Regions from separate parts of the Homo sapiens genome. Here region 1 is linked to region 2. The links come from fine-mapping of genetic effects on gene expression. A gene starts in region 2. The other region holds a variant in brackets. All regions are shown on one strand. Distances are between the middles of the regions.

Region 1 (4,389 bases), 100 kb before region 2:
TTTTTTTTTTTTTTTTTGTAGAGATGGGGTCTCGATATGTTGCCCAGGCTGGTCTCGAACTCCTGGGCTCAAGCAATCCACCTGCCTCGACCTCCCAAAGTGCTGGGATTACAGGTGTGAGCCACCACGCCCAACCTGGGGTGAGATTTCTAAAATGCCAATCTTGACAGGTCAGTTCCCAGCTTAGAATGCTTGAAAGCCCTCCATGATCTAAAGTTAAAATTCCAGCTGGGTGTGGTGGCTCACGCCTGTAATCCCAGCACTTTGGGAGGCAGAGGTGGGTGGATCACGAGGTCAGGAGTTCAAGACCAGCCTGGCCAACATCGTGAAACCTCGTCTCTCCTAAAAATACAAAAATTAGCTGGGCAGGGTGGCGGGCACGTGTAATCCCAGCTACTTGGGAGGTAAAGCAGGAGAATCGCTTGAACCTGGGAGGCGGAGGTTGCAGTGAGCCAAAATCGTGTCACTGCACTCCAGCTTGGGCAACAGAGTGAGACTTTGTCTCAAAAAAAAATCAGCCTGATGTGGTGGTGCACGCCTGTAATCCCTGCTACTCGGGAGGCTGAGGTGGGAGAATAGCTTGAACCCAGAGCGGGAAGTTGGACCACTGAACCCGGAGGGGGAGGTTGCGCCACTGCACTCCAGCCTGGGCGACAGCACAAGACTCCGTCAAAAATAAAAAATAAAAAAAATCCCAGCTCATCGGCATGGCCCAGAAAGACAATCATGACTGTACCCAACTGTAGGGCTGGGCAAATGAGGTGCCTAGGGTGCAAAATTTAAGAAGACACACACTCTCAGGTGCTGACCCTGCACATGCACGACCCTGGGAGTGGATGCTGCCTTAAATTTTGCACCCTAGCCCTTGCTCTGCCCAACTGTCTCTTTGGCTTATTGGCTTAACAGTCATCACCACTCCTGCATTCTGTGCTTTGGTACTCTCACTCTCCTTGTGGCTAGATCCTCACAGACACTGAGAGGCTTCTCACAGCTCAGGACAATCTTGAGAATCCTCTTTCTACCCTGGCTTCTACACTCCTTCAGTCCCACAGGCATTATCTCTACAACTGCTCTGACCACATTAGGTTCTCCCCATCCCTCTGAGCTTCTCAAGGGCAGAGACAGTGTTCCATCCTCTTTATCTCTCAGGCAGCATGTAGCAATCAGTAGGTGCTCTATAAATGTTAGCTGAACTGAATACAAATCTGCTCTGGGAACTTACTTGAGTTAACATCAGGTCCGTTGCCCAAGGCCCACAGTCCCACTAAGCCCCTTCAGAATGTAGTGACCACTAAGGATGGCTATGCACCAGGAATGAACTAGAGGCAGCCCTTGTCCAGACCTGGGCTGGAGGAAGGGTAGATGTGAACCATCAACTCTCCAAGGGTGGTGGTCAGAGCTCTAGCAAATAATTCCCCTTCTGACAAATTCACTGACTGTTAGCCTGCAATTTTCACAGGAATTACACATCGCCTGGCCAAGTGCTAAATTTTGAGCTTTCTTCCTGCCAGATTTCTACCATGCTGGTTCATGTTTGCCAATCTTGTAACAGTAATGTGTTTTCCAGTAGGGAGCATGAGTAGCTTCAGGAGTTATTCTAGAGGCTCATAAAAATGATCTTGTGACCATTTTACAGGAAGGATTCAGTAATGTGCCGTCTTAAAGAATACCACTGCTACCAAGAGAGGTCCTTGGAGTTTTTGCATTAAACCTTGAATACTATCTAGCAGGGACCTATCATACAATAAACAGCTCTAGGGTAAACACATTTCATAGGGTCCAATGTCATGAGTTTAACTTTTTTACTGTTGTCCAAGTACTTTCTTATCTGTAGCCTTACTTTTTTTTTTTTTAATGGAGACAGAGTCTTGCCGTGTCACCAAAGCTAAGTGCAGTGCCCAATCATAGCTCAATTTGCCTTGAACCCCTGGGTTCAAGCAATCCTCTGCCTCAGCCTCATAAGTAGCTGGGACTACAGGTGAATGCCACTGGGCCTGGCTAATTTTTTGATTCTATTTTTTTGTAGTAAAAATGGGGTCTCTCTGTATTTCTCAGGTTCTTGAACTCCTGGACCCAATCAATCCTCCCGCCTTAGCCTCTCAAAGTTCTGGGATTAAAGGCATGAACCACTGTGCCCAGCCTCAAAAAAAATATTTTTTAAATTAGCTGAGCATGATGGGGGCATGCCTGTGATCCTAGCTATGCAGGAGGCTGAGGTGGGATGACCGCGTGAGCCCAGGAGGCCAAGGCTGCAGTGAGCTATAATTGCACCACTGCACTCCAGCCTGGATAACAGAGTGAGACCCTGTCTCTAAAAAAAAAAATAATAAAATAATAAAAAGAGAATACATAGTAGGGCAACCATAGACTATCATTACTTTGAAAGAGGAAAAAAGATAAGAAAACCCCCTTTGTGGGCCAAGGTGATGCAGCAAGTTCACAAAGGATTTTACATAGAATTTATTTTATTTTATTTTATTTTATTTATTTATTTATTTATTCATTTATTTTTTGAGA[C/T]AGCGTTTCTCCCTGTCTCCCAGGTTGGAGCACAGTGGCACGATCTTGGCTTACTGCAACCTCTGCCTCCTGGGTTCAAAGCAATTCTTGTGCCTCAGCCTCCTGAGTAGCCGGGACTATAGGCACATGCCACCACACCCAGCTGATTGTTTTTGTATTTTCACAGAGAGGGGGTTTCAACATGTTGCCCAGGCTGGTCTCGAACTCCTGATCTCAGGCAATCTGCCCACCTCAGCCTCCCAAAGTGCTGGGATTACAAGCGTGAGCCACCACGCCCAGCCTTGGATTTTATATAGAATTTAAAGAGCTCATGATCCCCTTGAAGTTCTTTCATCATCTTCCCAGACATACAAGAACCCTAGTTAAGAATATCTGGGTTAGAGATTCTGTGCGGTCTTTGAATCAGGGTGTAAGAAATGGACAGGACCTCAGAGTTCAATGAATATAATCCTCATCAAGTCAGATTTTACAGATTCAGTCAATGAGGCCCAGAGAATTTTCATGGCTGACTCATAGCATAGCTAGTGGATGGCAGAACGGAGACCTATATCTTGGTTTTCTGAATCCCAGTTCTCACACAGTGTTGGGCTAATATACCGTGTTTAAGGCTGGGTGCGGTGGCTCACGCTTGTAATCCCAGCATTTTGAGAGGCCAAGGTGGGTGGATCACCTGAGGTCGGGAATTAGAGACCAGCCTGACCAACATGAAGAAACCTGTCTCTACTAAAAATACAAAATTAGCCAGGCATGGTGGTGCATACCTGTAATCCCACCTACTTGGGAGGCTGAGGCAGGAGAATCGCTTGAACCTGGGAGGCAGAGGTTGCGGTGAGCTGAGATCGCACCATTGCAATCCAGCCTGGGCAACAAGAGCAAAACTCTGTCTCAAAAAAAAAAAAAAAAAAAAAAAAAAAAAAAATATATATATATATATATATATATATATATATATATATAAAATCCCACATATCATCCCACCTCAGCCTCCCAGCCTCCTGAGTAGCTAGGATCACAGGCACACCCCACCATGCCCAGCTAATTAAAAAAAAAATTACACATATTATATATATATATATATAAAAAGTATATATATATAAATAAAGTGTATATATATATATAGTGTTTAAAACAAATGTAAAGGAGAGAGGAGTGTGGAGAGACTGGCTGGGGGCAAAATAAGCAATAGTTAATTCCTAGGATGTATAGGTTGGCTATTACTCAGCTTCATTTTTGTGTTCAGTATAGATTAGTTTTCTAGCTTCAACCCGAAGAGACCAAGCCTGAAGCTCCCTTCTAGCTCCCTACTTTGGATCTGTGACTAAATCCTGATGGATTATCTGAGCAAGCTCTGTGGAGAGGCAGATAGCAGAGACTGGCCACATCATGAATTCTAAATGGCTGATGTCATTACAAAAACCATAAGCAAGAAAGAATCTACAGTTTCCAGAAAGTGGGGGGAAAAGTTTCTAAGGAGAAAGTATGACTCTTGAAGAAGGAGGGTAAGGGTCATGTAGCAAAGAAGAGGTTATTGGGTGGTCTCTGTAGGCTGGGGGTGGGAAAGGGATGCACAGCAGGGTGGGGTGTGAGGGAGGCATGCTCGGAGATCATTTTTGTTTTTGTTTTTTGACCAGTGAAATGTTCAATTTTTTTTTTAAGTTTTAAAATTTTTAAATTTTTATTTTTTTGATCAGTGAAATGAGAGATGGTTTTGGGGAGGCCTGAGAGCCGTCTAAGAGGTTTATTAACCTGGAGATTATCAAAGTAAGATTTGCATTTTAGATAGATGCTTTTACATGGAAGATAGATCTTAAGATTTTTTTTTTTCCAGTTAGGTGTTAGAGTGCAGTTGTCCAGATTATGAATCATTCATTC
Region 2 (4,333 bases):
CCTTATCAAAGGACCTACTGTCACTGTCTGAACAACTCATCTGCAACAAGCTCGCATTTCACCCATGGTTAACGAACTGATTGGTGTCCTTTAAAAATGCTTTCTAAGTTTTACTCCCTCAATATTTTTTTTTTTACTCAACTGGGCTACTTACAAAAAGAACAAAGTTTAATACTGGTACATATTGAATTCCACCTGCTGTTTGTGAACGCTGAGCACAGCAGCCCTAGGTTTGGCAAGGCTGGATTTCCTTACCCATTGGTGTGACAGTTGCATTGTAATGTGGTATAATCCATAGGTTGAATGCAGGGCTTTGAGAATTTAAAATATTTGCATCTTCACAAGAAATATTTGGAAAGTTTGTATAAGGCCTAGTAAATCCAGTTGTGAGTGAATAGAATTTACCAAACTAAATTCACCTAGCATATGAAAATGTACATAAAACAAAATTAACAGGTAGTTGCTCATACTTAACAAAAAGATATTTAGTGCTTCTCATCACACTCAATTATTTCACATAATATTCTATTGTTTTCTTTCTCCTAAAAAATAATTGTTTTAAGCTCTCAGCTCTTCTCTTTTAATTTGAGCAAACTAAAAATATCTTGAGAATGGCCCATCTCACCTCATCAAAGAAGTTTCCTTTGTATCAAGTTTATTAATTCACTCATCCTTTCCTGATCTTTGATACTGAGACTGCTATAAAAAGGACAATGGATGCTAAAGATAACACGTGAAGTAGGTTTGTTAGACCTTTTTTTTGACCCTTGGTATCTTCAGCTTTCTGAAGGCCAGGTAATGTCTGCATTCTGAATATGTTAGGGGACATATGAATCCATAGGACATATTTTAAGCAGAATTGTATCATTGTTTCCCTTGTTGCTATTTTACTTTCCCAAACCATTGCAGAGCTTTTTGCCAATGACATTTTCTCATCCGCAGCCAGCTCTGCCACTCTTTTGCTATTTCTTCTGTCGACTTCCATTTTAATTTAAAAAATAAATTTATAATTTTTTTAGTTCTGTTTTGTCAATGTATACCTGCAGCCGCACACACATTTGATTATAGCTGCATAGTGTGGAAAATCTTGCAATTAGATTCCAAAATGACAGCCGGTGTAATTTACAAAGTACAAAAGTGTTATGTTAAAGCACTCTCAGCAATAAATAAAAATAGCTTTTTTGGAGGAGGAAATAACTTTGGAGAGAACTAGGCTGGAGGAGGAAGCAATCTACACTCTTAGGAAAGGAAGAGCCACATCTAGGAAAGCATCCGAGGGACAAGGACAACAGAAACACAAGAGGCTCTTGATCTCAGGCAGTCCTCCAAGAGGCACCTGACAGAGGGCAGTTAGGTTGCCTTGATTTGCCAGTTTCTGTCCTGAAAGATACACTGGACCTTTATTTCCCAAGGACTACTCATTCAGCATTGTTGAGCACCTAAATTGTGCTGGAGATCGCACAGGAACTGGGCTTGCGAAAATGAAAATTGCACACAGTTCCTGTCTTCAGGCGCTCACAGAGTTTTTAAAACAGAACATCTTAAGAGGGAGTTATAAGGGGCCCTGTTGCAAAAAGAGAGCAGCAACTAAAATCTTGGAAAAGCCCTCAGGACACCACAGAGGAAGCAAGCTGTGATCACAGAACTTTGAAAGGCTTTTGTATCTTTCGACAATAAATGATCAAGTGAAGTAAATACATTGTCCAGAAGAGAAAGAATTGGGATGGAGGATGAGATTTTATATGGAAGGATTAAAACATATTTAACTGGAGCAGGGACTTACAGGGACAGGCAAGTCAGTAAAGGGCCCAGGTTACAAACGAGTTATAACCGATCAGACCGACGAGCGCCCGCGTGCAGCGCCTCCTGCCGACGCGCGCCTCGCAGCCTTCAGTCAATGCTGACAGCTGTTCTCCAACACCCAGCTAGGGGCGGGAGGGTCCGCCCACTTCTACCAGATTTTGCACACAAAACAGTGGAAAGACCATTCTCATGGCTCCAAGCCGTTTTCTCCCTTCATCGCCTGCAATTTTAGGGCTTTTCGGGGGGTATGACTGCAGGGATTTTAGAGGTTTTTTTCCTCATTCTCTTTTTAAGAGGTGATAAAAAGCATTTAAATTAGCGGCAGGGCGGTTAACACCCGCAGCCCTAGCCTCTCCGCACTTCTCGTCGCTCGTCCGTGTTCACTCCACGCCTGGCCTCGGGTAGGAGCCGCATAGCGCCAACGGTTGCGGGTCGCAACTACTCCCAGGCGGCGCGCCTTGCGCGCCGGGCCTCCCAGGACCGCGGCGAGTTCAGAAGGCGCGGGGAGAGAAGTGAGGTCGAGCAGCGGGCGGCTTTTGACGAACGGCCCTCACAGCCAATGGGAAGCCCGGTCGACTTTCCCGCCCCTGCCAATAGGGAGCAGAACCCGGGCCGGGGGGGGCGCTTCCCGCAGGCTGCGGCTGGATTCGATCCTGCGCGACGGCCGCGAAGGCGGGGGCGGAGGCTCGGCCTGCGCGGCTGGGAGCGGCTTAGGGGAGGAGGGAAGACCGGAAGCCACGGTTGCGTCCCCATCCTTAGATTCGCTCCTCCGGGCAGGGAGCGGAGACGGAGGAGGAGGAGGGAGAGGCTGAATGTTGGCTCGGTAATTGAGAGGAGCGGCCGCTCCAGAGCTTCCTCCCGGGGCGCCCCCCTCAGTCCGTCCGCGCTTCTCAGCCGCCAGTCTCCTGGCCGCGCAGTCCCCGCGGACGGCCGGGCCGCGGAGACCCTCGCAGAAGAGGCGCTGCCGGCGGCGAGGACTGGCCGGCGGCATCCGAGGCGCGCGCCCCACCGCCACCCCCACCCGCCTGCCAGCCGGTCCCTCCGGCCGCCGCCATGTCCTCCTCCTCTTCCTCCCCCAGGGAGACGTACGAGGAGGACCGGGAGTACGAGAGCCAGGCCAAGCGTCTCAAGACCGAGGAGGGGGAGATCGACTACTCGGCCGAGGAAGGCGAGAACCGCCGGGAAGCGACGCCCCGGGGCGGGGGCGATGGCGGCGGCGGCGGCCGGAGCTTCTCTCAGCCGGTAACAAAGCGCGGCCCCCCTGTCCGCTGTGCCTGGCTGCTCCCCGGGAAGCAGGGCCTCGGTGCGGGGCCTCCCGCTTGCTTCAGTTAGCCTTTTCCGCTGCGCCGACCCGTTTGGGGAAGCGCCCACTCTTCTCTTTGGGGCTCGTATTCTGGCCTCTACCTGTTTCCCGCATCCCGACTGCGAACCCGGCGCCGTCCTGGCCGCAGGCCCCGCAGCGAGTCCACTGCCGGGCCCTGAACTTGGGGAGGGTCGCGGCGCGGCGGCGGCGGCGGGGAGGCGTCGCTTCCGCTCTGGGGGGTTTCGCGGCTCGGGGAGCTCTTTGTTAGTTTAACTCCTCGGGCTCGGGGCCAGCGTCGGGACCACCGGTTCTCTTCAGTCCCTCTGCCCGCAGCAGCCGCGCGTTGGTCACCATCCCGGGATGGTTGCGTCGGTTCTACCGGGAGCTCTCTCCGCCTCGGTCCTATGGAGACCCGTAATTAAATAACAGATTATGCCTTGGCGTTCACATGCTAGTTCCCTTGAAGGTTTAATTTAAAAAATTTTAAAATTAAACTCTTTATAAGCATGGCGTGCATCCTTTGCTCTACCCAATTTTGTGGATTACTCAGTACACTTTTTACCTCTTCGGTTACAACACTTCAACAGAAGTGTTGGCAGCTGTTGGTACACCCCTACCTTCAAGTAAAACAAATCTTAAAATTACTAAAGTTTTTCATTGGTAATTTATTCCACATTTGCCCCATGAAAGGATGAAGTGAGCTCAGGGTTGCATTAAACACACATTCCTAGAGCCAGGTCTTTCTCTTACCAGAAATGTTAGGGGGAGGCAGAAGGAATGTGATCATTTTGTCCACAGCAAGTAGTTAGCTTCAGTTGGATGGAGACTTTAAGGAAACAAAGCGGAGCAAACGTTATTGCCCTTTTTTGGTGCACTTAAGCGGTTTTAATGACTTAGATGTTATTTAAACATTTAACACATGAATTGTGATTAATTCTGCAAACTTTAACAGAATTACGAAACTGTACACATATATCCTACTATTAGGTTAAAAGGGTTTTTACCTTACCTTTTAAAAATAAGACGCACATTAGAAGCCCTTTATAGCCGTTTGAATTTTTAAATAATAAAAAAAAAGGCTGGTCAGTCACCCAGCGTTGCAGTTTCCAGTTACCAGGATGTGAGAGCAAACTTTGCAACACATTTAAAAAAGGAACTTTTTCTCTCAGTCTTGTTACGGTGTTAGCTATTACTTTAGATTTTTGTGCCGAGCTATTTGAAATATTC

Evidence for each region. PIP is the estimated chance that this variant, and not a neighbour inherited with it, causes the effect.
Region 1: its variant is the best candidate, but not a certain one, in a credible set for the expression of HNRNPLL in blood mononuclear cells (TOPMed, PIP 0.77).

The regions. Positions count from the first base shown.
Region 1 is chr2:38,702,140-38,706,528 of GRCh38, reverse strand. All of the region lies in intron 4 of GALM (galactose mutarotase), which reads right to left. The region is part of intron 1 of LOC124905993 (a long non-coding RNA gene); the gene reads left to right. Among named protein-coding and RNA genes, the nearest start is that of GALM, 38 kb to the right of the region's middle. The variant C/T (reference allele first, on the strand shown) is at 2,518.
Region 2 is chr2:38,601,150-38,605,482 of GRCh38, reverse strand. It overlaps HNRNPLL (heterogeneous nuclear ribonucleoprotein L like), which reads left to right and starts at 2,555. Exons shown (of 13, transcript NM_138394.4): 1 at 2,555-3,045. The coding sequence starts at 2,857. RefSeq lists silencers at 2,376-2,445, 2,666-2,715, 2,736-2,835.